Regions from separate parts of the Homo sapiens genome. Here region 1 is linked to region 2. The links come from fine-mapping of genetic effects on gene expression. A gene starts in region 2. The other region holds a variant in brackets. All regions are shown on one strand. Distances are between the middles of the regions.

Region 1 (15,553 bases), 84 kb after region 2:
TGGAAGCACTTTGCCTGGTGTGTTAACCGCCCTCTGAGGTCATTCCTTTGGGGGCAATCTTTAGTGAAGTTCTGCCACAAACCTCAAGAGAAGAGAACAAAGGAGTGTTTCACCTTCCCGTTTTGTTTTGATATGCTTCTTCCCTAAAGTGCCACCATCCACCCAGCTAAGTGTGTGCTTCTCTCCCTGCTTCAGAATTCAAATGGGATTTACACTGGCTTCATTAAAGTACAGATGGAACTCTGCAAACCTCCACAGACTTCTCCAAATTCTGGAAAACTCTCTCCCAGTAGCAATGGCTGTATGAATACACTTCATATCAGCAGCACAAACACTGTCGGGGAAGTGATCGAGGCCCTGCTCAAAAAGTTTCTCGTGACTGAGAGCCCTGCCAAGTTTGCACTTTATAAGCGTTGTCACAGGGAAGACCAAGGTACGCTGCCAGCTTAAAAGGAAAATGGTCTGTGCTTCTACTTGCATCTGCTGTTCTCATTAGCAGAGGGAAGACTGGTGGGTCTCATCCATGTCAGTTGTGTCAGAGCCTGGAGTCCGATGCTGGAAGCCATGGTGATCTTAGCATGCACTTAGTGCTTCCTGGCTGTCCATATTTTTGAGTTGGACAGTTGAGGGTCTGAGGAGCTTGGAAGCATCCATATGTGATTGGCAGTTACGAGTATTTTGTGGTGTTGGTGGGGGGATGGGGCGGGGGCTGTTTTTGGTGGTTGTTAGGAGTGGCTTTGATTTTAGTTTTCTTTAGGACACAAAAGAGTGCCTCTGTGTTTGAAGTTTTCAATAGCACATTCCACATTTGATGTGCATCAGTACGTGGAGTGGTTTGGTGGATGTGTGCTGAGATCTTGCGACTGGGGAGGCACATGTGCATCACAGCACATTTCAGCGTACTGATGGAAACGGCCCAGCCCTGGGCTCTCCTGTTGCCTTAGCTTGTCTCACTTGGTGTTACGCCGGGACATTTTGGTACTCTGTCCCCCAGAGGCTCATCAAATGAGTGAATAACATTTTGATCTAGGGTCTGACTAAAACTTCATATCCACATTCAGGGGATAGAAAGAGAACATTAAATATTAAATTACTGCGTGAAACAGAATGAGATATTCCAGGTCAGGCAGTGACCAGAAATTGATAACATTGGTGGACAGTAGTGATTCAGTGACTCACTACATGCGATTTGAAATCGGGGTGTGTGTGTGTGTGTGTGTGTGTGTACAATAAACTATTTAAGCTTTCTTTGGTTTTTCTCGGTAAAGCCTAATGTAGCTATAGAAGAAAATATATTAACCTTGACATGATAGTAATGTTCTTCAGTTACACAGGATGAAACCCAGCTCATTGCTGAGTATGCATACATCTTTTTAAAAACAAACCATGGGGCTAGACCCTGTGGAATACAAAGATGAACAGGCCAGGGTTCCTACCTTCAGAGGTCACAAGCTTAGTATTGTGGGGGCTTATATCTATAGGGAAATTGGCACCTGCGATGCAGTGCATCTGGAAGTGCCACAATAATGTAGAGAAGCTCGATGGCATTTTTATCTGCCAGTTTCTTTGCCTGCTCACCTGGACTTTAGCTGTACAATCTGAAAGTAATCGTGACTTGTTGAAATATTACCCCCATGGCTGGCAAATCCTTTAACATGATTGGCAATGTCACTGTATGTGTGTGTCTAGCATGAGACATATATAGCTGTGCTTGAAGCTACCGGAGCTTATATTCTGATTGCTTGGTTTGTAGCTGCTAATTCGCTAATTCTTTTTTTTTTTTTGAGACGGAGTCTCGTTCTGTCACCCAGGCTGGAGGTGCAGTGGCGCAATCTTGGCTCACTGCAAGCTCCACCTCCCGGGTTCACGCCATTCTCCTGCCTCAGCCTCCCGAGTAGCTGGGACTTACAGGCGCCCGCCACCACGTCTGGCTAATTTTTTTGTGTTTTTAGTAGAGACGGGATTTCACTGTGTTAGCTAGGATGGTCTCGATCTCCTGACCTTGTGATCCGCCCGCCTCAGCCTCCCAAAGTGCTGGGATTGCAGGTGTGAGCCACCGCGCCTGGCCTCGCTAATTCTTAATTAATCTGTAGAGAGATTTGCTTTTAGAACTCTTGTTTTTATGTTCTTTGGATGGTATATACATTTTTTTTTAAATTTGTTTTTTGTTTGTTTGTTTGAGACGGAGTCTTGCTCTGTTGCCCAGGCTGGTGTGCAGTGGCACAATCTCGGCTCACTGCAACCTCCGCCTCCTGGGTTCCAGTGATTCTCCTGCCTCAGCCTCCCAAGTAGCTACAATTACAAGTGCCCACCACCATGCCCAGCTAACTTTTGTATTTTTAGTAGAGACAGAGTTTCACCATGTTGGTGGCCAGGCTGGTCTCAAACTCCTGACCCCAGGCAATCTGCCTGTCTCGGCCTCCCAAAGTGCTGGGATTACAGGTATGAGCCACCACGCCTGGCCTTGGTTTTTGAGACAGCGTCTTACTCTGTCACCTAGGCTGGAGTACCATGGCATGATCATAGCTCATTGTAACCTTGAACTCCTGGGCTCAAGTGATGCTCTTGCCTCAGCCTCCTAAGTAGCTAGGACTATAGGCGGGCCCCATTATGCCTGGCTAGTTAGAAAAAAAAATTTTTTTTTTTTGGAGACCAGGGTCCTGCTATGTTGCCCTGGCTGGTCTCGAACTCCAGGCCTCAAGTGATCCTCCTGCCTCAGCCTTTAAGTGTTGGGATTACAGGTGCGAGCCACTATGCCTGGCCTATTTTTATTGTTTTTAAAGGAGTAGTGGACCCTTTTTTAGGTTTCTTATCTTGCCTTTTTTTTTTCATTTAAAAAAAATTTTATTTATTTTTTGAGACAGAGTTTCACTCTTGTTGCCCAGGCAGGAGCGCAATGGCACGATCTCGGCTCACTCCAACCTCCACCTCCCAGGTTTGAGTGATTCTCCTGCCTCGGCCTCCCAAGTAGCTGGGATTACAGGTGCCCGCCACCACGCCCGGCTGATTTTTTGTATTTTTAGTAGAGACAGGGTTTTGCCATGTTGGCCAGGCTGGTCTCAAACTGCTGGCCTCAGGTGACCCGCCCACCTCGGCCTCCCAAAGTATTGGGATTACAGGCATGAGCCACCATGCCTGGCTCTTACCTTGTTTTCTAAAAGGAAGAGCAGAGCTAACTATAAGCATATTTTGGGACTAATATCTATTAAAATTTATTCTTGAAAATAATTTCCTTCTTAATCAAGGCACAGTTTATATTTGAACAGAAACAGAATAGATTTTATTCCACTGTGGGCTACTGGTATTAAATAATAAGATGAGCCGACTGGCGACTTAGAGGCTGGGGTAACTTGGATGGTTACCTTGATCTGGAGGAGGGGATCACAATGGGGAAGTGGTCTCAGGAATGGCTGAATACTCTGTAACATGCTGCTTGTTTCTTTACCCAGTCTACGCCTGCAAGCTCTCAGACCGGGAACATCCACTCTACCTGCGTTTGGTAGCAGGGCCCAGAACAGACACACTTAGTTTTGTTCTTCGTGAACATGAAATTGGAGAGGTAAGTTATTGTTCACTATTGCTTTAAACTATACAGAACAGCTGGCCCTATTTTATTGCAGTAGCCTAGTGACTTGGCTATTGATGGGGGATGGGAAGAGAAGAGAGTTGGAGGGCAGGGGGATGGGAAGAGAAGAGAGTTGGAGGGCAGGGAGAGGGAGAGGGATTTTGAATTGTCAGAAATGAACCCAAAGTTAGCCTATGATGTCATTCTCTCACAACCTTATATTATTAGTCTGTCATTTTCAGAGGTGGGAGAAAATAAAGTTTTTTTACTTGATCTCCATCCAGAGAGTCATTTTCACCCCTTCCCACCTCCAAAATACTCCAGTCCAGCTGAACTTTGAAAGTTGACACTCACCATGTGTTTGCTACTAACAAAAGTCTCCAGGCTAATTCCCTTCTAAAGGGATATAAAAGGAAATTCGATCTCTTTACCATGGAAGGCATTTAGCTTTCTAGCATCTTTTTTTTCCCCCTTGCCCAGTCAACTGATTAAGAAATTATGTTTCCATGTGCATCATTTGCCATGTTGTCTCCAGGGAGGATTGTATTTAGCCAGTTCAGTAGAAGAAAAAAAGCACTTGAGCCTGCCCTCTAGATCAAGTGTCAGCTTTAAATGACACTTGAGCAAATCCCAAGCTCCTGTCCCAGTCTTCTGTCTGGAACAGGAAATGGTGTGAAATGTCCTACATGGTGCAATTGAGAATAGGGTTTCTAGGTTAAAAGTTAGGAAACGGCTCTGTTTCCTACTGTTTGTTAGATTAGTAGCATGACCTTGGATAAGTCTTCTAATCTTTTAGCCCTCAGTTTTAAAATCTGTTAAGTGGGACTAAACACTTTACAAGGTGGGCTTTGAGTCACAATTAGAAATGTATACATGTAAGTGAAGGGAGTTTTAGGAAGACAGTGGTTTTACATGTTTTTGAAGTTTCTTTTGATTCTGGTGTTTTGAAGCTTTTCAAGACATTCAGACTCATTTTGGGGAGAAGGCAGGGTGCAGAAATCTGACTTGGCTTTGCAGATGGTGACCATTCCCTCTGCCAGCTTAAGCCAGACACATTAGCATAGTCTACTCAGTGTTTTATTTTTCTTGTACTTAGTGTTTTAAGTAGCAACTAGAACTACATTGGGCAAGAATTTTATTAACTTGGTTATTTTATTGTATTTTAATTATAATTAGAGATAGGGTCTCACTACGTTGCCCAAGCTGGTCTCAAACTCCTGGGCTCAAGCAATCCTCCCACCTCAGCCTCCCAAAGTGCTGGGATTACAGGCATGAGCCACTGCACCTGGCCTTAACTTAGTTTTGAAATTGACTTGACATTGGGTTTTATTGTTCCAGACTGCTGTACTGGACCTCTGTATGGTGTTCTTATTTCTCAGTTATTTAAGGAAAACTGAACTGAGGAAGAAATTTCCATAGCTGTTAGGGGGTGGGAGGGATATTTATATGATGTCTTTATTTTGGAGACTTCAACATAGGTGAAAGATAATCTGTTAAAATTTTAAAAATTAACAGAATATTCTAACGTAGAAGTTTTGCTCTCCTACTCCATGTTGCTCTTTTTTTTTTTTTTTTTTTTAAATAACCAGCCTAAACTGTTCTCCAGGAATTCTTCTACCACTGAGCCCATTTGGTGGATTTACTTATTTTTCACTCTTTGTTTGTATTTGGTTATCTTGAATCTTTTCTCTACACCATCAGACAGCAGTTCTCCACCAGGATCCAGGGCCCCCTTTGGGAGAGGAGGATGTGTTTGGAAAAAACCTCGTAGATGATGCTAGATACCCTCCTTGACATTCACTGCTTCTATTTTTTAAAATCTGTTTTAATTTTTTTTTTTTTCTTTTTAAAGAGACTAGGTCTTGCACTGTCACCCAGGCTGGAGTACAGTGGCGCAATCATGGCTCACTGCAGCCTCAATCTCCCGGGCTCAAGCAATCCTCCTACCTCAGCCTCCCAAGTAACTGGGACTACAGGAATGTACTGCCACAGCCAGATAATTTTTAAATTTTTTGTAGCGACCTGGTGTCACTATTTTGCCCAGGCTGGTCTCGAACTTCTGGTCTTGAACTTCTGGGCTCAAATGATCCTCCTGCCTAAGCATTCCAAAGTGCTAGGATTATAGGCATGAGCCACAATGCCCAGCCTAAAAACTTATTTTGTGCCTGCTAAATAAGTACTAGGAGCTGTTAGGGAAACAAGGCTCAGAGCCTCAAGGCAAGAGATAAACTCCAAATAGCGAGAAGTACGGCAGCTGTGGTGTAGGTAAGGTGCAGGTGAGATAGATATTAAGCAAATAATTGTAATTTAAAAATCTTGGTTGTGATCAGGGGCTCTGTGAAGGCTTTTGATACACTTAGCCTTGGGTGGGAAGAGAGGAGAGGAAGTTGTGGAAAGCTGCTTAGAGAAAGTGGCATTTAAGCTGAGATGGGGAGGATGAGTAGTTCATAGCCAGGCAAAGTGGAGGAGGGGAGAATGCGTGCCACTTGGGCAGAGAGTGAAGCTCGGTGAGAGAGAGATGGGGCCGGAGAGTTTAGAGTCTTTCAGACAGCATCAGCAACTAAGGGAAGCCATTGGATGGTTCTAAGCAGGGGAGAGTCTTGGCCAGATGAGCATTTTACAAAGGATGTTCTGTTTGGGGAACAGATGGGGGAGCATAAGAGCCGAGTGAGGAGGCCAGGTAGGAAGCTGTTCCAGCGATGCAGGAATAGATGATAGTAGCTAGCACCAAGGGGCCGTACCGAGGGAGAAAAGGCTGAATGGAGAACTGTTTGGGGGTGATAAGACTGATTATGCGAGGTAAGAAAGTCAGTTACAATGAGGACTCGAGGTTAAGATGAAAGGACTGTCGAATTGTTTTTAATGCTGTTGGGGGTCAAATCAGGTAAGGAATGAAAGTGTCCAATAGACTTAGGGATATGGAGGTCTCTGGCTTTTAGGGAGATCGTCTTGAACAGTGGGAGGAGAGGGTAGGAAGGTGATTGGTGTGAGCTGAGGTGGGAGTGGGAGTGGAGGGAGCCCTTAGGCTGGCAACACCCCAGCTCTTGCAGACCACACCTTCTGCGGCATGGGGCTGGGAGGGGAGGGCAGCCGCACCTCTGGGAGCTCCTGGTCAGCATTCCTAAGTCTAACTGAGTATTAAACATCTGGCATTTTTCTTTCTGTGTTTCCTGACAGTGGGAAGCCTTCAGCCTTCCAGAACTACAGAATTTCTTGCGCATCTTGGACAAGGAAGAAGATGAACAGCTGCAGAACCTGAAGAGGCGCTACACAGCCTACAGGCAGAAGCTGGAAGAAGCCCTCCGTGAGGTGTGGAAGCCTGATTAAAGCGGGGCTCCCTGCCCGTGAGGCCCGGTGCAGGACCGATGTACAAAACAGCAGCAAGTGCCTCTCTTCTCAGAGGGCTGCTGTCTTGCCCCACTATGCTAGGGTCTTCGCCTTTCTATCTGTAGATTTTGTTCCCCAAACCTGGTCACACAGCATCCTGCACCTTAGCGTCCCATGTAAGGGACTCTGCAAGCTTGTTGTTCAGCACCGCAGTGTTACCTCTTGGCAAGCTGTGAACCTGTCGCCTCATCAGGAGCATTCGAGGGTGCTTGGAAGCATGAACTCTGGGGGTGTTTTTTTTTTTGGTTATTTTAATTATGTGATGATGCTGTTAAGCTTACAGATATGCAGTTGATTTTTTAAAAAGCTTAACTAGGAATCTTTCTGAATACTTGTCCTATTTTGAAACTACCTGTCTGGTTTTTTGTTTGGTTTTGTTTTCTTTTTTTAATGTCAGAGGAATCTATCCATGTGAATCGAAAGGCACAGGAATCTAGGAACTCTGAGGAATTTATTGTGAAGGATTTTGTTAGGGGGTTGACAGAGAAAGCAAAGTGTAAGTTTGGAAGAAGGCATGTGCGGTGGTGGCGAG[T/C]GCTGCGGGCTATGGAAGGTGACTTGGCTTTTCAGTTAGGGGTAGTGGAGAAAGGGGTAGTTGCTTGTAAACGAGTTAAAAGCATTCAGTGTGGAGGTGTTAAACCCATTTTAGGATCGCTTGGTTTCCTGGTGGGTAGAATATGGGAACAGAGCCAGAGGCAGGAGCTAAACCAAAAGGAGGGACCCATGAACTCTGCAGCTGACCAATCAGAGAATCAGGCAGGTGTAGCCTACTGACCTGGGCAGAGGTGGGCCTCACGCAGCTGGATCCGACCCTTTAATTCTGCCCTTTTGGAGTGGAAGGTCTGATTGGTGTAGCTGCTCTGCATAGGCAGGACAGTGACAGTTCACTAACTCTTGTTAAGTTACATAGTGTATAGCTTTCCCCCCACAGGTGGTTTTCAAAGTTGAGACGGAATTTGGGTAGGGGCAGCTGTTTTTCCCTTGATTGTTAGCTAGGATATTTGTCAAGTAAACTTTGGTGACAATCACTCTCTTCCCTTTTATTCCTCCTTTCCTTTTCCTTTCTTCCCTTTTTTCTTTCCTTCCCTGCTGTCTCCCACCCTACCTTGTTCTTTTCCTCCCTCCCTCCCTCCCTCCCTCCCTCCCTCCCTCCTTCCCTCCCTCTCTCTCCCTCTCCCTTTCTTTTCTACATTGAAATCTGTTCTTACATAATAGAGAACAGGGCTATTGAATAAAGACCCAATCCTACCAGATCTTTAGTTCTAAAGGGCAACTTGACTGTGAGTAGGAGGGCCCCCAAGAAAGGGAGGAAAGTCCACACCCAGCTAACCACACAACAGGGCTTCATTATGGAAATATTTTAACAAAAGTACATGTTATTACCAACCAAAGAGATGCATGTGCAATAGAAGCCTTCCTTAAAAACAGGCTAAATAACCTCATTTTATGCAGCAGTTTAATCTGAGAACAGAGGGAAAGGTGTGCAGTGGTTCCAGAGGGGCCTTATATTCTATTTTTAGTCTAGATATTTTTTGTTTATAAATTCCCAAGGAATTGTTAACACTTTGGTGACACCTAATGGATTCTTTTTGAAATTCCAAGGTGCTTCAGTTCTTTGCCCAAGTGAACTGTGCCTTTTATTGCATTTCTGTTCGTCTCTTGGTGGCTCTTCTGACTTTTTGGAGAATACCCATCTTGTTGGAGGCAGACTTAAGTTGTTATGCTGTGCCACACAATTTACTGAGACAATCATATCTTCCTAAGCATTTAAGGAAAGTTGAAAAAAATAGAATTAGCTATAAAATATGTATGGCACATCTTGTTTAATTTTGCATGTAACTTCTCTTTTGTACATTGATGAGGTTTTAGTGACATTGTCATCCAACACTTTACCTTTATTGTTCAGGGAATGCCTTCGTGATTTTTTGTACTGGTTTTATTATTCAGACTATGGCCTGGATTTGAGTATATTGTTATTACCACCTGGTTTTTTAATTATTCATCCCAGTAAACTTATATTTTGTGAAGCATTTGTTTCTCAGATTAAGACACTGTTAGAACCTAAAGTAGTAGCTGATGGGTATCTGTGAATTTTTTTTTTTTTTTTTTTTTTACTTGAAGTAGATTGTCTGAATAGGCATCCTCATCTATATTTACCCAAAACCTCGCTTACTGTCATGTGCACTACAAATTGCAATTTGGAAACCTACTGTATTGAAATTCTGTCAGTTTATGGTTCTTGAAGACTGATGTCCTTTCCCAAACACTGGTTACTGCAGCAGCATTTTTAATGTGTAAGTGAAGAAAAAAGGCCACTAAGGCCAAAGATTTTTTAAGAATCATTGTACAAATCATTATGTTAAACTATCTAAGCTTTGCTGTAATACTGTTTTCTCTTCAATATGTGATGGTACAGGAAGGATGTTAAATGAAGGGGTGGTATTGCAGGAGAGCATTTTAAATGGCAGAAGTAAAAAGTTATAATATTTATAATTTTGATGGGTTTAAGTTTATTTTTGTAGGGAAGATTTTTCTCCCCTAAAATAGTTTCTAGAATGGCAAAATTGTTTCCATTATTAAAAATTGAAGTTATTAGTTGTTTATGTGTGTTTATTTATGATAATATGCTAGATTTAAAAAGGTCACAGGAGTGCGCTGAGCTGCTTTTGCACATATACACAGGGACACATGCTGGAATGCAACAACTTTACTAGGTTCGCGTGGGTCATATTTGTTCTCCCAGATATCATTTTCTCTTTGCCTTATCCTCTGAGGAAAAATAACCCTAAGCTCACACAGCATATTCCAATGTATTTAAAACAATTGTTTTAATTTTTGAAATATACACATTTAAAAGTATATAAAGCATGCAAAAGAGGAGGGAGGCCGAGAGTGAAAAAATAAAAATAAAAAAGCATGCGAACAGTTTAAAGGATTATTATATAAAATGGACACCCCCTGACCATTACTAAAATAGAACCTTGTCAGTTCTTTAGAAATCTCTCCCTCCACCCCTGTTCTTGCCCTGAGGTCTCCTACCCCTGAAACATACCACTTCAACATAAAGTGAGTATTTGTATTTTTTTGGTCACCATGACTGCCTTACACAGATGGGATGGATAGTGTCTGGGGAACCACAGGGACGATGGAGTGCCACCCTCTGCGCACCTGCACCTCGGCTTTGTGCCATGGTTTCAGCTTCCATGCCTGCTGTTGGGAGTGTTTTTACTACTACACTGCCCCCTGGAGGGGCTGATGAAAGGAGCAAGGCTGGCACCAGGTGGTAGAGGCCTTTCACGTACCATAGCTGCTCCCTAAATAAAAATACTGTGATAGAAAATTATGGCTCTGTATAATTTTGCTTTTCTACTGAAATATTCAGAGGAATCAGGTTTGGGGGTTCTACTTGGGTTACTACCCAAGGTGCGTGGAGAATGTTTGGGAATTTTTATATTTTTATCCTTTATTTTTTTTGGAGATGGAGTCTCAATGTGCCACCCAGGCTAGAGTGCAGTGGCATGATCTTGGCTCACTGTAACCTCCACCTCCCAGGTTCAAGCGATTCTCCTGCCTCAGCCTCCCTAGTAGCTGGGATTACAGGTGCCTGCCACCATACCCGACTAATTTTTTTTTTTGTATTTTTAGTAGCGACGGGGTTTCTCCACGTTGGCTAGGCTGGTCTCAAACTCCTGACCTCAAGTGACCAACACACCTCAGCCTCCCAAAGTGCTGGGATTACAGGTAGGACTTTTTTTTTTAAGTCAATTTTTATTACTAAAAAAAAACCTTTTTTTTTGAGATAGAGTTTCACTCTGTCTCCCAGGCTGGAGTGCAGTGGCACGATCTGGGCTCACTGCAACCTCTACCTCCTAGGTTCAAGCAATTGTCCTGCCTCAGCCTCTGGAGTAGATGGGATTACAGGCGTGTGCCACCACACCTGGCTAATTTTTGTATTTTTAGTAAAGACGGGGTTTCACCCTGTTGGCCAAGGTGGTCTCAAACTCCTGACCTCAGGTAATCTGCCGGCCTTGGCCTCCCAGAGTGCTGGGATTACAGGTGTGAGCCACCGTGCCTGGCTCACATGAATATTTATTGAAACAACAGTTATCAGTTGGTGACAAATTCGGAGACACTGTCAGATAACGCTAATTAGGTATTTTGTTTTATTGAAAGAAGGGGGCTGGGCGCGGTGGCTCATGCCTGTAATCCCAGCATTTTGGGAGGCCGAGGTGGGCAGATCATGAGGTCAGGAGTTTGAGACCAGCCTGACCAAACATGGTGAAACCCCGTTTCTACTAAAAATACAAAAATTAGCTGGGCGTGGTGGCGCACACCTGTAATCCCAGCTACTCAGGAGGCTGAGGCAGGAGAATTGCTTGAGCCAGGGAGGCGGAGGTTGCAGTGAGCCGAGATCGCCCCATTGCACTTAGCCTGGGCGACAAAGTGAAACTCCGTCTCAAAAAAAAAAAAAAAGAAAAGGGGCCAGGCACAGTGGCTCATGCCTGTAATCCCAGCACTCTGGGAGGCCAAGGCGGGCTGATCTCTTGAGGCCAGGAGTTCAAGACCAGGTTGGCCAACATGGCAAAACCTCTTCTCTGCTAAAAATATAAAAATTAGCCAGGCGTGGTGGCACACGACTGCTGTCTCAGCTACTCAAGAGGCTGAGGCAGGAGAATTGCTTGAACCCGGGAGGCGGGGTTCAAGCCCCGTGATTGCGCCACTGTACTCCAGTGAGCCGTGAGTACTGCAGTGAGCCATGATTGCGCCACTGTACTCCAGCCTGGGCAACAGAGCAAGACTCTATCTCAAAAAAAAAAAAAAAAAAAAAAAGGGTGGTGGTGAAGGTCTACACTATAGTAGCCAATGCCAACAAAGTGCTTACCATGTGCTAGGCATTCTTCTGAAATGCTTAATATGTATCAACTCATTGACTCTCCTGTGACGTTATCACACTATTTCGTCATATCCCTTTTTTCACAAATGTGGAAATGGACATGTTGAGGTTTAGCAGCTTGCTCAAGGCCACTGTGTGAGTGAGTGGCAGAGCCGGACACTGCCCCGTTTCTCTACCATCTTTTCCTGTAAGTGCTCTCTAGTTTCTCAGTTAAATTGCCTATTGAGTAAAGGAGCAAAAGTCTGTTAAATTGCCGTAATGGACAGTTTGCCCAGAAGCGTAACTGTTTTGGTGCCATTGGGGTTTGTTGATATCAGTGTGTTCTCATCCATTTTGGTTCATTTATCATTTCATTCAGGTGATTATACTAAGTCACATAGAATGAAATGCTGACCTGTGCTTTCTTTTTATTTTTTCGGATGGGGTTTCACCTTGTCATCCAGGCTGGAATGTAGTGGCGTGATTACGGCTCACTGCAGCCTTAACCTCCTGGGCTTAAGAGATCCTCCCATCTCAGCCTCTCAAGTAGCTGGGACAACAGGTGCCTGCCACCACATCCAGCTAATTTTTTTTCATTTTTGTAAAGATGGAGTCAGGCTATATTACCCACGCTGGTCTCAAACTCCTGGGCTTAAGTGATCCTCCTGCTTTGGCCTCCTAAAGGGCTGGGATTACAACCACCATGCCCAGCCCAGACCTGTATTTTCATTTAGAGGTTCTGTTGCATGGGGGAAATAACACGGCAGGTAACCAAACTTAGTGGTCTCACTGTAGTTGGTAAGACAATTCTCCTGGAACCACCAGAAGAACAGCTTCAGTACTACAGAGTGCTATAGGAGCCACAAAACTTGTGCAAAGGTTTGACTCATGGAACCATTCCCCCAAACAAGGCTCATCCTCTGCAGAGAGAAACTAGGAGGTAAGTATTCAAAGTCTAAAGCATATGCTTGTGTGGTGTGAATCACTACTTGCTTAATTGAATGTTCAAGAAAGAAGTTTTATATAAGGATAAAGGTGGGGGGGCAGGTGTGGTGAAGGCTGGAATAGGAGGGAGTGGGGACTAGCTGGGTTATATACCAACAACTCTGAAGCTAAATCATTTATTCCATCTTCAGGCTTGGATCTGGGTTTGGGTTTTTGTTTTTTGTCTTTTGGGGTTTTTTTGCCTGTTGGTTTTGGTTTCATTTTGTTTTGTTTTTTGACAAGTCTTTCCCTATTCCAGGAGATGAGAATAGCAGGGTACAGGATAGACCCCTTTGATCTTAAATAGTGTTTCCAAAGGATGATTGTGGTTCTCACGTGTCTGGCTGAGGCTGCATTTGGCATCAAGTGAACTCTGAAAGCTCCTCTCTTCTTCTTGTTTCTGAGAAATGTGAGCACCTTTAAGTATTATTTACGCACAAACAACAAAACATCAGGGCTCTTTGTAAACCTCAAAAGAAATTGGGATTTGACTTTGTTTTGGGGAGGGAGTTATTTCAATCAGGAGAGTTCATTTTTTTCTCTTTCTAAACGAGGAGTTCCGATTACAATGGGCCTGGGTCATTAAGGGCATCTATCTGGTTTGTGTTTGCTGGCATATGTACTGCCGGCTGTTGAGCCACGCTTTGTGGACACGTGGGATTCATTAAGCCCTCTGTGGTTCCTGTCTCTGAAGTGGCTTTCTAGGGAGGCTCTGCTCTACAGGGTTTTTCCATTTACAGGTGCAATAAAATTTGTTTAAATTCTAAAAATTCTGAAGCAGCAAACTTTAGTGCCTTGCCAAAACTTAGAATTCTTGAATTACTGCTGTTGCAGGCAGGGAGGCAACAGCTTAAATTCAAACCTTTTACTCAGAACTATAAATGGTGTCTTCAGATTCTTTTAAAGATGGTGAACATTTCAAACATTTTTCTTGCATATGTGATCTTTGCAAGGAAAACATTCATAGTCAATTTTGTTTAGGTCAGATTGAGTATTTCGAGGCCTTATTAATAAAAGATGCTTGACTGAGCAGGTAAGGCCAACCATAGAAACTGAGGAACAAAAAGACCAGCTTTCAGAAAACTTCCAGTTCTTTTTTTTTTTTTTTCTGAGACAGAGTCTCACTCTTGCGCCCAGGCTGGAGTGCAGTGGCTCGGTCTTGGCTCACTGCAGCCTGCGCCTCCCAAGTTCAAGCGATTCTCCTGACTCAACCTCCCAAGTAGCTGGGATTACAGGCACCCACCACCACGCCCAGCTAATTTTTGTATTTTTAGTAGAGACAGGGTTTCACCATGTTGGCCAGGCTGGTCTTGAACTGCTAACTTCAGGTGATCCACCCGCCTCGGCCTCCCAAAGTGCTGCGATTACAGAGGTGAGCCACTGTGCCCAGCCATCAGAAAACTTCCAGTTCTATCGCCTTTATCTAGATACAGTTTGTATAGGAGTTTGTGTGTGCTGGGGAAGGAAGTGGGCTTTAAGGGTGTAGTGGTGTTGGGGAGGCCAGAAATAATGTCCCCTTTATCATGGAAAGTTATTTGTTATGAAGGTGGTAGTTAGGAAAAGGCAACGTTTAGGATCTTTCGGAAGATATTTCAAGACAAAATGAGGTTACCACACTATTTCTTCACAGACTGCCTTCGGAACTGTGGAAGGTGCTGAATTTTGTTTTTTCGAGGTAGGTCTTGCTCTGTTACACAGTAGCATGATCATAGCTCACTGAAGCCTCTAGTTTCTAGGCTCAAGCAATCATCCCACCTCAGCCTCCCAAGTAGCTGGGACTAGAGGGGCATGCCACCATGCCCAGCAAATTTTTTAATTTTTTTGTAGAGATGAGGTCTGGCTATGTTGCCCAGGCTGGTCTCGAAATCCTGGCCTCATGATCTTTCTGTCTTGACCTCTCAAGACACTAGGATTATAGGTGTAAGCCACTGCCCAGGCTGATTTTTTAAAGGCAGATTTTTCTGTTCATTGACTCTGAAGCTACTTAATCTGAATCTCTGGTACTGGCCCCTGAGAATCTGCCATTTTAATAAGTGCCCCCTATTTTTTCAAATGCTGACTGCAAATCCTAGAGCTCTACAGAGGGTTTCTGGGGCTGAAGGGATACATCATTGTGCACAGAGTATTTCCCTCATACCCCTTGTTTTGAAATTTTAAATAAATTACTTCCAAATTGAGAGTAATGACTAGCCTGCAAAGAGGCTTTCTGACCTGCCTCACTTAGCCCTGGAAAGGACAATTCTATATACCCTGTTCCCCTGGACCATGGCTAATTGGATCTTAGACCTCTGTTGAAAGGCCATTGATCAACTAGATTTTCTCAAAATTTTATTTATTTATTTATTTATTTATTTATTTATTTATTTAGAGACAGAGTCTCGCTCTGTTGCCCAGGCTGGTGTGCAGTGGCATGATCTTGGCTCACTGCAGCCTCCACCTCCCGGGTTCAAGTGATTCTTGGGCCTTACCCTCCCAATTAGCTGAGATTACAGGTGCCCACCACCACACCTGGCAGATTTTTTTTTTTTTTTTAGTAGGGATGGCGTTTCGCCATGTTGGCCAGCCTGGTCTCAAACTCCTGGCCTCAGGTGATCTGCTCGCCTCGGCCTCCCAAAGTGCTGGGATTACATGCATGAGCCACCGTGCCGGCCATAGCGAAACTTGTGGCCAGCTACTTGGGAGACTGAGACAGGAGAATCTCTTGAACCTAGGAGGCAGAGGTTGCAGTGAGCCGAGATTTTGTCACT
Region 2 (15,553 bases):
TATTGAGGATGTGCCCAAACATGGAAATACTATCCTTATACGTAATCATATTAGCTAACATCATGAGCTTTTATTATGTGCCAGGCACAATGTTTTGCATGTCTTAGTTTACTTAATCCCTTTAAGAATCCTATAAGGTAAGATTTTATTACCCTCCCTTTCCAGATGTAGAACTGAGGTTTAACCAGTTTAGATAATATGCTGTGGGTCACACCATCTGAGCCCACATTTGAACACAGGCAGTCTGATTTCCTTTTTTTTTTCTTTTTCTTTTTTGAGATGGAGTCTTGCTCTGTCGCCAGGCTGGAGTGCAGTGGCACGATCTTGGCTCACTGCAATGTCTGCCTCCTGGGTTCAAGCGATTCTCCTGCCTCAGCCTCCTGAGTAGCTGGGACTATAGGCATACGCCACCACGCCCAGCTCATTTTTGTATTTTTAGTAGAGATGGGGTTTCACCATGTGGGCCAGGATGGTCTCGATCTCCTGACCTCATGATCTGCCCACCTCAGCCTCCCAAAGTGCTCGGATTACAGGTTTTCTTTTTTTTTTTTTTTAGACAGGGTTTGACTCCGTTGCCCAGGCTGGAGTGCAGTGGCCTGATCATGGCTCACTGTAGCCTTGACCTCCCAGGCTCAAGCAATCCTCCCACCTCAGCCTCTTGAGTAGCTGGGACTACAGGCATACACCACCATGCCCGGCTAATTTTTGTATCTTTTGTAGAGACAGGGTTTCGTGATGTTGTCCAGGCTGGTCTCCAACTCCTGCGTTCAAGCTATCTGCCTGCCTCAGCCTCTCCAAATGGTAGGATTACAGGTGTGAGCCACTGTGCCCAGCCCAGGCTGATTTCTCACCCCACATACTTAACAACCAAACACATTGCCTTTCAGTTATTATACCATTTATTCCTGTCATTGCCATGAACAAAATGGAAGCAACCAGGGTGATAGTTGCAGCCAATAGGCACTGACCAAAGAGAACAGCCGCTGATTGTATCGGTTCAACTATTAAGAGCCTGTCCTCCAGCTACCAGGCTGATGTAACCAACTCTTTTTTTTTTTTTCTTTTGAGATGGAGTCTTGCTGTGTCGCCCAGGCTGGAGTGCAGTGGCGCGATCTCGGCTCACTGCAAGCTCCGCCTCCCGGGTTCACGTCATTCTCCTGCCTCAGCCTCCCGAGTAGCTGGGACTACAGGCGCCCGCCACCGTGCCCAGCTAATTTTTTGTATTTTTAGTACAGACGGGGTTTCACCGTGGTCTCGATCTCCTGACCTTGTGATCCGCCCGCCTCGGCCTCCCAAAGTGCCGGGATTACAGGCGTGAGCCACCGTGCCCGGCCATGTAACCAACTCCTATCATCTTTGAGTTTGTCATATATTTTTTTTTTAATTTATTTTATTTTATTTTTATTTTTTTTTTAGGCAGAGCCTTGCTCTGTTGCCCAGGCTGTAGTACAGTGGTGCCATCTCGGCTCACTGCAACCTCCACCTCCCTGGTTCAAGTGATTCTTCTGCCTCAGCCTCCTGAGTAGCTGGGATTGCAGGCACCCACCACATTCAGCTAATTTTTGTATTTTTTTTAGTAGAGATGGGGTATCACCATGTTGGCCGGGCTGGTCTTGAACTCCTGACCTCAGGTGATCTGCCTGCCTCAGCCTCCCAAAGTGCTGGGATTACAGGTGTGAGCCACCACACCCAGCCTGTCAGAATTTTTGAGAGAAATTTTAGAACATATTTTTTTTCCTTTTTAAAGCCAATTTAAATACCTCTGCTATGGGTTGCTTTTTTTTTTAAGGTAAGAAAATGAACTTTCTAAATTATCTTCAGGGGAACAACTTAGCAATCATTTAAAAACTCTTACTTCTTTTTCTATCTGTCTCTACTGATTCTACCAATGTCAATGGAGGAGAACAGAACGTGGCAGAAATATTATGAGAGATATGACTATTCCAGCAGGAACAAAATGATGGGAATATAGGATGATAACAGGTCAACTCAACTGGCTTAAACAAGGCAGTATCTAGGCCGGGCGTGGTGGCTCACGCCTGTAATTCCAGCACTTTGGGAGGCTGAGGCAGGTGGATCAACTGAGGTTGGGAGTTCAAGACCAGCCTGACCAAGATGGAGAAACCCCATCTCTACTAAAAATACAAAATTAGCCAGGGTAGTGGCGCATGCCTGTAATCCTAGCTACTCGGGAGGCTGAGGCAGGAGAATCGCTTGAACCCGGGAGGTGGAGGTTGCGGTGAGCCGAGATTGCACCATTGCACTCCAGCCTGGTAAAAAGAGCGAAACTCCGTCTCAAAAAAAAAAAAAAAAAAAAAGCAGCGAGATAATATCTTATGTCACATAACAAGAAGTCCTAATTAGGGTGGTGTCAAACCTGGTTAATCAAAGAGCTATGAAGTCTTTGTATTGTTCTGCTTTGCCATGGTGTCTATTTTGTCCACAATATGGCTACAGAATTCCTAGGTACCATATGCAAGCATGCAAGATCCAGAGGAAGAAGACATAGTCTTTTTTTGTAGGTTTCTTTTAAAAGTGAGGAACATCTTCCTAAAAGGCACCAAGCCAGGTTTCCTTCTGGTCTCAGTGGTCAGGTCTGTGAGACCTGTCCATGCCTAAAGCAATCCCTGGCAAGGGGAATGGGACCACTACGACTGACTCTGCACGTCAGGCCTTACCCCTGTGAGCTGAGATTGGACTTCTTTTCCCGAGGGGATTCTTGAATTAAAGTCCTTGTTTAGTTAACAAGAAAGAAGTGAGTGATGAATGTTAAGTATGCAATAAGGTCTAATATTTGGGGCAAGAAAGATGAATATTTGCTTGATCCTATTCTATGCCAAGGACTTTGCCTGGATTCTTTCACTTAATCCTTACAGTAAACCAAAGAAAATAAAATGAAGACATTGTCATCCCCATTTTGCTGCTGATGAACCTGAGGCATAGAGAAGTTAATTAAATTGTTAAAGGTCACATAAGAGTCAGTGATAGCCAAGGCAGGCAGATCACCTGAGGTCAGGAGTTTGAGACCAGCCTGGCCAACATGGTGAAACCCTGTCTCTACTAAAAATACAAAAATTGGCCGGGTGAGGCGGTGCGTGCCTGTAATCCTAGCTACTCGGGAGGCTGAGGCGGGAGGATCGCTTGAACCCGGGAGGCAGAGGTTGCAGTGAGCTGAGATCATAGCACTGCACTCCAGCCTGGGTGACAGAGTGAGACTGCGTCTCAAAAAAACAAAACAAAACTTGAACTTGGTTGCATACATTTAATTTTATTTATTCCACCCCCTTCCCTGAATTTGAAATGTTAAAAGTGTCTAGTTGCTTAACATGACATTTTGAATTTTTACAGATACAATTTTCATGAGCTAAATTTTAAATTCACAATATTTTAATTAAAAATGCTACCAGGCTAGGCATGGTGGCTCACACCTGTAATCCCAGCCTTTTTGGAGGCCGAGGTGGGAGGATCACTTGAGCCTAAGAGTTCATCAAGACCAGCCTGGGCAACATAGTGAGATCTTGTCTCTACAAAAAAAATATAAAAATTAGCCAGGCCTGGTGGCATATGCCTGTAGTCCCAGCTACTCGGGAGGCTGAGGTGGGAGGATTGCTTGAGCTTGGGAAGTCGAGGCTGCAGTGAGCCAACATGGCACCACTGCACTCCAGCAACAAAGTGAGGCCCTGTCTCAAAAAAAAAAAAAGCTACCAGAAAAATATGCAAATATCATTATGCTGCTTTTAGGAAACAAAATCACAATTCTTCCTTCCTTTATTTATTTATTTATTTATTTATTTTCTGAGGCAGAGTCTCCCTGTGTCGCCCAGGATAGAGTGCAGTGGCGTGATCTTGGCTCACTGCAACCTCTGCCTCCAGGGCTCAGGTGACTCTCCTGCCTCAGCCTCCCGAATAGCTGGGACAACAGGCATGTGCCATCATGCCCAGCTAATTTTTTTATATATTTTCAGTAGAGATGGGGGTTTCACCATGTTGGTCAGGCTGGTCTTGAACTCCTGACCTCAAGTGATCTGCCGGCCTCAGCCTCCCAAAATGCTGGCATTACAGGCGTGAGCCACCTCACTCGGCCCTTTCCTTTATTTATGTTTTTTTTGTTGCTTAAAAGCAGTGCTTCCATTTCATTATTTGATCATGGCTTTTAAAATTATTTTATTTATTTATTTTTTTAAGAGACAGACTCTTACTCTGTTACCCAGGCTAGAGTGCAGTGGTAAGATCATAGTTCATTACAGCCTCAAACTTCTGGGCTCAAGTGATCCTTCCACCTAGCCTCCTGAGTAGCTGGGACCACTAGCATGTGACACCACATTGGCTAATTTTTTTTTGTTTTTTGTTTTTGTTTTTGTAGAGACAGGGTCTCATTTTGTTGCCCAGGCTGGTCTTGAACTCCTGGCTTCAAGCAATCCTCCCACCTCGGCCTTCCAAAGTGCTGGGATTACAGGCGTAAACCACCATGCCTGGCCTAATCATGCCTTTATAAAAAAATCATTTTTTTTTAGAGAAAAGGTCTCACTATGTTGGTCAGGCTGGATAGGAACTCCTGAGTTCAAGTGATCCTCCACCTCAGCTTCCCCCTGTGCCCCACTCAATCATGCCTTTTTATTATAACTGATTCTGATGGTATGCTGACAGATATACAAATTAATCCAGTCCTTTGGAGCTTAAAAATAATACAATGAAAAAAATCATTTTTATGGTGTGGTGCATCATAAAGTTTATTTATTTATTTATTGAGACGAAGTTTTGCTCTTGTCGCCCAGACTGGAGTGCAATGGCGCCACCTCGGGTCACTGCAACCTAGGCCACTCCGGGTTCAAGCGATTCTCCTGCCTCAGCCTCCCGAGTAGCTGGCGCACGCTACCACGCCCAACTAATTTTTGTAGTTTTAGTAGAGGCGGGGTTTCACCACGTTGGCCAGGCTGGTTTCCAACTCCTGACCTCAAGTGATCCACCCGCCTCTGCCTCCTCAGGCGTGAGCCATCGCGCCCGGCCAATAAAGCATTTTAATGCATTTTTCCTCAAAGTATTCATAAACTTCAACTTGTTCTAGGTAAAATTATTTTCCCCTTTCTACCCACAATAAAATGAGTAATTTAAGCCCTTAACCTACACATTATTCTTACCTTGGAATATTTAATAAGAGCTGCGCTAATATTATATCTGAATAATGAAATAAGAGAAACCAAATAAGAAAAATTTGTCATAAAGCCCTATTCTCCTACATTAGATTATGTGCATGGCACACACACGGATCAGCTTAAGCTGGGTGAAACTATATGGAGTTAGAATTCCTGGCTTCCTATCATTCAGTAGCTGTGTGGCCGAGAAGAAGACTTTAATGTTGTAGGACCTTTAAAATGGGCTGTAACTCAAAGGCCCTCCTTCTGGAGTTGTTGTGAATCACGTGGGGTAATATATACTAGTTTACAAGATGGATGTGTAAGCCCGAAGGTGGAGCAGGTTTGCAAGCCTTCTTTCAGCCTAGGGACAGTAGGATGACTCATGAGTCAATTCTTCTCTCCTTCCCGTCATTTCGGGTCCAACTCTTCCTCCTGTAGTCCACAAAAGAGCACGGCTGACCGATACCAAGCAGAGAACCCAGTAGGGTATGTGACCACGTTCAGATCAACAGAACGCAAAGCAGAACGGTCCGAGTACTGCCTCCTACAGCCACTTTCCTTTCTTTAAGCCTCAGCTGCTGCTCTAGGTGTAAAACCGGCATAAAATAGCACTACGTACCTTGCAGAGTTGCTCGGAGGATTGAAGGAGATAATGTAAGAGAGTTTGGCTAGTTTGGCTATGATGGATGGACATTTTCTCTTTTCTAACGTCTCTCTTCCCCTCCTAATGAAACCTCTTCTGAAGCTCGCTAACTATAGCAGGGCTTGCAGCTTCAAAAAAACCTTTCAGTCAAGATCTTGAAATTAGTATTATTTAAATCAGTGCAGTAACACCAAGGTGTAAAAGACTGTTACCCACTGGTGGCTTTAAGAGGATTAGCTGACTGAAGAGTTTTAGAAAACATGGAAACTTTTTTTGTACGTGGATGGATGGAATTCCCTGATCTCCTTATCCCCACCACTTAAACCATGCCTTGTGGGTGACCGTGGAAGGCTGATTGTGGCGGGGACATTTACAAAGCACATTTAATTGATAAGCACTCGATTGTTCTGTAACTATAGAACTAGTTCACCTTTCAGTTGCACTGAGTGCGCCTAAGATAACGATCTTATTTGGAAGTGAGCCCTCGCTAGAAAGAAGGGGAAAAGGGTAAGACCGAAGCTCAAATGAATGACCAGAAAGGATGTTTTCATTCGAATAAACTCAACCCAGTTTTTGACCTCCCCACCCATCTCTGCCAACTTGAAATCCTCCTGGAGGGGCGAGCTGCTGGGGTTCAGGACTGGGCGTTGCGGCTGCAGGAAGCCGTGGGACCTGGGGGGTCCCTCGGCCGGGCAACCCCCACCCACCCCTACAGGACCCTGGTGCGGGGGCGAGCAGGGAGTGGACGCAGAGAAAGTTCCCCGCTCTGCTCCCGCCCTCTCCGAAACTCGAGCCAGCGAGGCTGGGGGCGGGCGGACGGCTCGCAGAGGAATTTGCAGTTTCCGGGAGGTTGAGGAAGCGACCCGAGCACAGCCCCAGCAGACGCAGCCCTAGCGCCCGGCTTTCCGGGTTCCGCGACGCTGTCGGGAGAAACCCGCGCGCCTGGAAGGGGCGGGCCGGGCTCCCCCCACCTGCGGGCGGGCGGGGAGGGTCGCGGCCGCGCGGGGTGGGGCTCGGCCGGTCGCCCGTCCGGGGCGGGGCCCAGGGAGGCGGGGTCGCGGGCGCACCGGGGCCGAGCCGCGCCTGGAGCCTGGCGGGGAGGCGGCAGGAGGGGCCGGGAGAGCCTGATTGAGCGGCGGCCGCAGCTGCATAAGGACTGCCCGGGGCTGCGCGCCGGGAACCTCGCGGGGCTGGCGGGCGCCGCACCCCCTCCCTGGCCGCCTGCGCCCCGGGGAGGCCGCCCGCGCGCGACGGGACCGGCAGCATGAGCAGCGGCTACAGCAGCCTGGAGGAGGACGCCGAGGACTTCTTCTTCACCGCCAGGACCTCCTTCTTCAGGAGAGCGCCCCAGGGCAAGCCCCGCTCCGGCCAACAAGTGAGTGGCGCGCGGCGGGCGCTGCAGCCCGCGCCCCAGAGTTCCGGGGAACCCGCCAGCCCGCGCCCCCTGCCTCCACGTGTCTCTGCGGGGCGCTCGGGGGATGCTCGCCGGGAAGGAGGAGCGGGCCGAGAAGTGGCTTCTGCCTTTTCGGGTCCCGGGAACGTGCCTGGAGCTTGTGCGTGTAGGCGAGGGAAGGCGGAGGAAGGGCGGGGAGGCTGAGGGCCGGCTTCTGCCTTCCGCGCCAGATGGCCTCTGCAGCTCCGCCTCGGGCTGCCGCCTGCGGGGAGCAGCCCCGGAGCCAGCAGGCGTCCCCGGGCCACTCCCCCAGGTTTCCCCTTCGCGTCCCCGCTGGGTCGACGGTCGGGTTCGCGCGCCTGTCCTTCCTGTTAGTCAGCTTACTCATCTGTGGCCCCCAGAGTGGCTTGGGTCAACGTGTAATAGCTAGGGGTGGCCGGGTGACCTGACCTCCCCTCTTCCTGGCCCGGGCGACCTGGTGGAGTGGGGGTCCAAGGGCACCGTGGGCCTCGCCACCATAGGCTCTCACTAAATCTCCGTTGCGGGACTCAGGGTTGTGCGTTTTCTGTAAAGCTAGGTTTTTTGGTGCCCAGATGTTTTGCAAACAAGCTCCTATGCTAAATACTAGCCAGCGACAGCTAACCTTTTCGCCGGTTTCTTCCTTTTTTGGAGGCAGCATGCCGTGGGAAGCACGAGTTGGGAAAAGATGGGAAGGGAACTTGTGCCAGTTTCGCCAGCTGTAGCCGTGTTTTTTGGGAGGCCTTCCCGAAACGGGGCACGTCGGCTGGACTGAGGAGCCCGGTGCTAGAGCCCGCGGCCTCCTGGCACTAGGAGCCGCACCAGGGGAGCCGGGCCAACCCGGCCACGCTCACATCAGATTACAGAAGATTGTAATGGCACAAATTTGTTGCTTTTAGAAAACAGGCGTTCGCCAAACATTTCTATTAATACCGGACTGAGACCTAGAGACTAGAAGCAAGAAGAATCGTTCAGGGGCCGGATGATAACTTCTTTTGGTGGATGTGGGAGGGTGCAATCTGTCAGGGTGGTCTTGCCAGACCTCTTAAGTTTAGCCACTTTCTGAAGTAAAATTCTTTCTAAAATTCGGAAGTTCTAGTCTTTTCAGGCTCTTAAGTCCCAAACCAGGAGGAGGAGAGGAGACGGTGAAGGGTAAGCTGAAGTCAAGTGCCCTTATTCAGTAACCGCAGTTAATCTCAAGTCCCGGTGCCATAGTTGTCCGTCTTGTATTGTTTCTAAGGCTTAAGGCCCCACTATTTACGAGTCACTTTGAGTGGGATCTCTTACTTTCAGCAGAGTGTGTTCTGAGAGCATGAGATTGCTGTGAAGTTTGGAAGTTGGAAACGCCCTCTCCTCCCCCATGCCCACCCTCCCTGGGTTGTAGAAAAATTGCATTTGCTTATGCTTTTTCCATTTTTGCTTTCTCTTTCTTGGCCTCTCTCTTCCCCTTCTCCGTTTTGCATTTTCTCCTTTCATTTATGTTGCTTTCACCACTTGACATGAAAAGGAACTCATGGTAGTTTGAAGTTTATTCCAGAGGTGTCTGCTAATCTCCTGAAAACTGGCTGGTTCTTGGATTCTCCAGGGGTGAGATGCCACAAGGGCCAAACTATTCAGGTTTGAATTGTATGAGAATCCTTTAGTGCTTTAAAGAGTAAAGACATCAGTTTTTTTCTAGGTTTATATGCATTTAGCGTTTCTTTTTTTTTTTTTTTTTTTGAGATGGAGTCTCACTGTGTTACCCAGGCTGGAGTGCAGTCGTGTGATCTCACTGCAACCTCAGCTTCCCTGGTTCAAGCGATTCCCTTGCCTCAGCTTCCCGAGTAGCTGAGATTACAGGCATGCACCACCACATCTGGCTCATTTTTGTATTTTTAGTAGAGATGGGATTTAACCATGTTGGCCAGGCTGGTCTCGAACTCCTGGCCTCAGGTAATCTGCCCGCCTTGGCCTCCCAAAGTGCAGGGATTACAGATGTGAGCCACCGCCCCCGGCACATTTATTGTTTCTATGTTGTATGCAATCATTTATGTATCATCTAGCATATATATTATACTCAGGGTAGTATTATTTAGCATTTAGAATTAGTCTAACATTAATATGTATTTTGAAATATCGTGTTGGAAATCAGGACAGGAAGACATAGTTCGTGGTTGAAGAGCTTCATATGTGTATTTGAAGCTTTATTGCCTGCATATTTTTCCCTTCTAACATAACACATGTAAGGTGCTGAGTTGTAGAAGTTATTTGCCAGGCAGAGAAAGTGTTCTAAACTACGAATTTTAGTGAGCATTGTGGTTTATTTAAAGAAGTGATATGAATGTTTTAAATTCCTGGTAAGATTGGTGAATTAGGGAAGTAAAACATCATAAATATAAAGCAAAACACTCTTAATGTAGAATGTTCCTTTTATCTAACGTTAGATAAGCCTTTTTCTTCATTTTCATGCTGATGATTATAAGAATAAGATAAGCACTTCTGACATACATCATAGTAGTGAAATTTATCCTTTCTCTAGAGAGATGGAAAGAGAGGTATTGCTAGAAGGATCTATTAGAGATACAGTGATTTTTTTTTTTTTTGGATGCTGTACCACCTGGTGGAAAAGTGAGAAAAATGAGGTTTCTAGATTTCTTGAAAATATCCGGAGAAAACAAGATGTTTGTGGTAAATGCAGAATGGGGAGAAAGGGGTGAGGGAGCGGGTGGACTGGAAATTTCTTTCTTCTCTTGCCAGGCAAGGGAACATAGTGCAACTTCTTTCTATCCCCAACAGTAACAAAAACCTTATAAAGAAAATGTTTTCATTTTTTTTCTTACTTTAAACCCCATTCTTAACAACAAGAACAACAACAAAAATGGAAAAGGGTTAAAAAACCTGTCTAGGCCACGTGTGGTAGCTCATGCCTGTAATTCCAGCACTTTGGGAGGCTGAGATGGGAGGATTGCTTGAGCCCAGGAGTTTGAGACCAGCCTGGACAACATGGTGAAACCCTGTCTCTACAAAAAAAATGCAAAAATTAGTCAGGCATGGTGGTGCTCGCCTGTAGTCCCAGCTACTCGGGAGACTGAGGTGGGAGCATTGCTTAAGGCCGGGAGGCAGAGGTTGCAGTGAGCTGTGATCGCACCACTGCACTCCAGCCTGGGCAACAGAGCGAGACCCTGTCTCAAAAACAAAACTGTCTAAAAGATATAAAGGGAACGAACATATGACGTTTTGTGGCAGTTTGAATGTCATGTTTATTGTATCCGCAGGGTCTCGATCAGTACCTGATATACAGTAGTTGCTCAGTGAATGCAAGCTGAATGAATGAATGTTTTCCTGATTTGATAGTAACTGGGTCTTTACCATTTCTTTTTTTTTTTTTTTTTGAGATGGAGTTTCACTCTTGTTGCCCAGGCTGGAGTGCAATGGCGTGATCTCGGCTCACTGCAACCTCCGTCTCCCGCGTGCAAACGATTCTCCTGCCTCAGCCTCCCGAGTAGCTGGGATCACAGGCACCTGCCACCATATCCAGCTAAATTTTGTAGTAGAGACGGGGTCTCACCATGTTGGCCAGGCTGGTCTTGAATTCCTGACCTCAGGTGATCTGCCCGCCTCGGCCTCCCAAAGTGCTGGGATTACAGGCGTGAGCCACCGCACCTGGCCCCTGATCTTTACCATTTTCAAATGTACTGTATCTTATGGTGCTCCCAAAAACTGTATGAAACATTAACTTAATGAAAGGGGGAGGTATTATTTAGTGATTGTATAAGGCCCACACCTAGATAGCAAGAAGGCTGGAACTCAGGTTTTCAGACTCAAATTACACTCTCTATTTTGTTACTTTTTAGCTATAAAAATAATTTTATGGCTCCATATTCCCTTTGCAAATAAGGACACCTAAAATTTAAGAGTTTCTTAAAATTTCTTTTCTTTTCTTTTTTTTTTTTTTTTGAGATAGATTCTTACTGTGTCACCCAGACTGGAGTGCAGTGGCAGGATCTTGGCTCACTGCAACCTCCATCTCCCAGGATCAATTGATTCTCATACCTCAGCCTCCTGAGTAGTTGGGATTACAGGCACCCGCTGCCAGGCCTGGCTTTTTTTTTTGTATTTTAGTCTAGATGGGGTTTTGCCATGTTGGCCAGGCTGGTCTTGAACTTCTGACCTTAAGTGATCTGCCCTCCTTGGCCTCCCAAAGTGCTGGGATTATAGGCATGAGCCACCGCGCCTGGCTGTTTCTTAAAATTTCAACTCCCTGACCTGCATATAGTCATGACAGTGTTTATAATTTGTATTTGTGGATTCACGTATTTGTGGATTCGCTGTGTTTCAAAGGATCCACCTAATCATTGTTTTCAGCAAAACCAAAAATGTGGACAGTTGTGTAATTTATTATTTGCCTTCTTGATTTCCCACCAAAATCAAACTACCTGTAAATACAGGACACATTCAGATTTCCAAAGAATAGAAATGGTCTAAAGTTATAATCTGTCAGAGTGTGTCTTACCTCTTAGCTAAGCTACCTCTCCTCCTGAGCCTTTGGTAGTTCATGGGAATAAGGAAATGAGACAGTATTTTTGCTTTAGAAGTAGGGTAGTCAAGAAGTCTTGAGAAACGTGAAATTGTCTTCTGAACAACCCACACTTTAAAAAAAATTGCGCTGAAGAATTTTACTTCAGTAAGTAAGTCTATTAGACTCCCCATAGCAGGCCTCAACTTCACCCTTTCGGTTTTCTCTTTCTTATTCAAATATTTTTGTGCCTCAATTATTTGGTTGTGTCTTATTGCTAGAATCAACAGTAATGAGCTGCACTCTTTTATTAGTGTTTCCATTAGAAGTTTAGAGCTAGATCACTGGGGTAAAAGAATAGTGGTTTATGACATAATAGGTATTTTGACTCTACTAGCCTTTTTCTTTTTTTTTTTTTGAGACGGAGTTTCGCTTTTGTCACCCAGGCTGGAGTGCAGTGGTGTGATCTCGGCTCTGCAACATCTGCCTCCTGGGTTCAAATGATTCTCCTGCCTCAGCCTCCCGAGTAGCTGGGATTACAGGCTCCCGCCACAGTGCCTGGCTAATTTTTTGTATTTTTAGTAGAGACGGGCTTTCACCATGTTGGGCAAACTGGTCTCAAACTCCTGACCTCAGGTGATCCACCCACCTCGGCCTCCCACAGTGCTAGGATTACAGGTGTGAGCCACCACTCCTGGCCTATACTAGCTTTTTAAATGCTGATTTTTAATTCCCGTATTATGGGGCATAAACATTTTCACCAGACATTTTGCCTAGGGCAAGGTGATTTACACATCTTTTCTGCATGTCTGATATGTTCTGTTCTTACACGATATTAATCCATTGGAATTTTGTGTTTGTGTGAGCAAGATTCACAAAGGCATATTCCTTTAAATGAATTTCAGAAGAAAAAGTTTCCAGTCCTATAAAGCCTCATATTTGAGTAGTATACTCCTTATCCCATTTCTTCTTCTGGCCAACTCACAAGATTTGGAATTATTTGGAAAGCAGTGACACAAAACATTTTTGAAAAGAAAGGCTAAAAATATCCAATAATGTGGTTATTCTTTTTAGACTTCCTTTGGCAGTCAGTGCATGTCATACGGTTAACATTCTTTTTCTGGGAGAAAAAAAAACTGAGTCTGACCAAATACTTTCTAGTGTGGCCTGATCACCAACTCTTAGCCCTGGGCATTAGCCCTCGCATTTTCCACCCCCAAGTCTCCAAGCATAAGTAGCTGTCTTTCAATAAAGGCCCCAGTTTGAAACGTGTATTTCACTCCTAATTTGGCCAAAGGCCATTGGCTAGCAGTCCCTCTTCAGAGGGGATGGTGAAAAGACAGTAGGATATATGATAAATGCATGCAAAGGAGCTTCTCTTCTATATGACAAGTCTTGGCTAACTTAGCCTCTTTGCATCTTCCTCTGTTTGAAGAGCTACACACATTTGCCTTGTAGGAAGTTTTTATTCTCATGGCAAGCAGGCATTACCTCTATTACAAGGCCCCGCTTATTGTTCACCCTGTGATGTAAGAGCTTTTAGGACTCCAACAATATTAGCCTTCTCTTTAATTCCTTTCAGGCCCCATCGCCATCTCAGAACCATGGCCTGGAGTTGCCGCCCTCCATTCTCCTTAACATGTCGACTCAGAAAAGTCTTAAAGCCCGCTGTTCTTTCCCTTCATAGCAAAAATTATAATTTATCATTATATTTTGTTTAATGAGGACAGAGACTAGCATTTTTTACCTACTACATAATATAAATGCTTGGCACTTAAGGTGCTTGAACAAATGAAAGCCTGCTCATTTTGGATGGATGTCCCAGTATTTGGTACTGTTAGTTTTCCTTTATACACAAATGTACACAATGTCTCCCCCTTTCCAAACTAGACCATAAGCCTTCACAGTATCTTACAGGTAGTAGTGATTTAAAATGGGATGATATTGGTAATATCTGTGATTACTGGTTAAGCATAACTCACTTTATATACTTTCCCCTTGTTTTAAGAAAACTCATCATTTATTCATTAATATATTTAGTTGACAATTTATTGTGTGCCTCCTATGTGCCAGATACTGTTCTAACCTCTGGGGTTAGGGTGGTGAACAATACACAGTCCCTGGCCTCTTTTGGCAATGTTTTTAAAAAGCTTACCCAATAGGCAAATGAAAATATCTCTCTAATTTTTCCCTAAAGAGCTTGCTCCTTTAGTGTATTTGAGGAAACTTTGAAATGTAGTTTTTCAGGAACACACCTATTTTGTAGTGTGGTAAAGCTATACATTGATTGATTGATTGGTTGAGACGGAGTCTTGCTCTGTCACCCAGGCTGGAGTACAATGATGCGATCTCCACTCACCGCAACCTCTGCCTCCTGGGTTCAAGCAATTCCCCTGCCTCAGCCTCCCCAGTAGCTGGGATTACAGGTGCGTGCCACCACATGGGGCTAATTTTTTATATTTTTAGTAGGGATGGGGTTTCACCATATTGGCCAGGCTGGTCTTGAACTCCTGACCTTGTGATCTGCCCGCCTCGGCCTCCCAAAGTGCTGGGATTACAGGAATGAGCTACCGTGCCCGGCCCTATACATCTGTTTAGATGGGAATGTTGACGTGGAAGTGTATCACTTCCTGTTTTACGTCCCTGTGTAAAACAATCACATTTCCTTATTGATGACTGTCTTCCAACAGAAACGTAATCATCTTCAAGGTTAGAAAATGTTTTTTAAATAACTTCAACCAGCGTTAACCAAACTGGTTAATTCACCAAAATGTTAACCAAAATTAACCAAATCAAATTTGGTTTATTTTCCAGGTCTCTTTTTTCTTTTCTTTTTTCATTTTTAAAGAGATGGGATCTTGCTATGTTGCCCAAGCTAAAATGCAATTGTTATTCACAGGCATGATAATAGTGCCCTATAGCCTCGAACTCCTGGGCCCACATGATCCTCCTGCCTTAGCCTCCTGAGTATTCCAGGTTTTTCTTAATAGTTTAAACAGGTAGTTCTGGTTTGGCTATCAGTAGTGTTGTCAAATAGCTTTTGTTTGCTTAATTTTATTTTTATTTTTTTTGAGACAAGTCTTGATCTGTTGCCCAGGCTGGAGTGCAGTGGCGTGATCTCGGCTCACTGCAACCTCCACCTCCTGGGTTCAAGCAATTCTCCTGCCTCAGCCTCCCAAGTAGCTGGGATTACAGGGGCATGCCACCATCCCCGGCTAATTTTTGTATTTTTAAAGTAGAGACGGGGTTATACCATGTTGGCCAGACTGGTCTCAAACTCCTGACCTCATGATCTGCCCTCCTTGGCCTCCCAAAGTGCTGGGATTACAGGCGTGAGCCACCACGCCCGGCCTTTTGTTTTTGTTTTTGTTTTTTTTAAATGGAGAGGGCCAGATAATGCTCTAGGAAGGATGTCAGAACCCATAAAAAATGATGAGTATTTGAAATATATGTAAAAACTTAAGTAACAAATCAGAAAATATATTCTGAGATAGAAGTGACCATTCTAAAACTGTGCTGTACAATACAGTAGTCACTAGCTACATGTAGTTTTTAAGCAATCGAAACGTGGCTAGTCTGATTGAGATTGCTGTGAAAAATACACACTGGATTTTGAAGATTAGAAATGTACCCTAAAACTTAAAGTATAATAATAAAAAAAAAGAAAGAATGTAAAATATGATAATTAAAAAATTGCAATTACATGTTGAAATGATAATATTCGATAATATTTGAGTTAAGTAAATTTAATGTTACTTATTTTTTAGCATGGCTATGGAAAACTTAAAATTATGCATGTGGCTCGCATGATATTTTTGTTGAACAATGCTGTTTGCTGAAGCAGGGCTGGCAGCCCTTGCCAGAGGTTT

Evidence for each region.
Region 1: its variant is fine-mapped to the expression of RASSF3 in T cells (TOPMed, PIP 0.95).

What each region holds. Positions count from the first base shown.
Region 1 is chr12:64,688,021-64,703,573 of GRCh38, forward strand. RASSF3 (Ras association domain family member 3) reads left to right here. Exons shown (of 5, transcript NM_178169.4): 3 at 196-433; 4 at 3,450-3,559; 5 at 6,743-9,544. The coding sequence ends at 6,892. Among named protein-coding and RNA genes, the nearest start is that of GNS, 64 kb to the right of the region's middle. RefSeq lists a silencer at 6,169-6,463. The variant T/C (reference allele first, on the strand shown) is at 7,485.
Region 2 is chr12:64,603,591-64,619,143 of GRCh38, forward strand. It overlaps RASSF3 (Ras association domain family member 3), which reads left to right and starts at 6,905. Exons shown (of 5, transcript NM_178169.4): 1 at 6,905-7,153. The coding sequence starts at 7,043. It overlaps RASSF3-DT (RASSF3 divergent transcript), which reads right to left and starts at 5,876. Exons shown (of 2, transcript NR_187549.1): 1 at 5,755-5,876. RefSeq lists enhancers at 5,445-5,494, 5,715-5,774 and silencers at 6,405-6,474, 6,635-7,154, 7,365-7,434.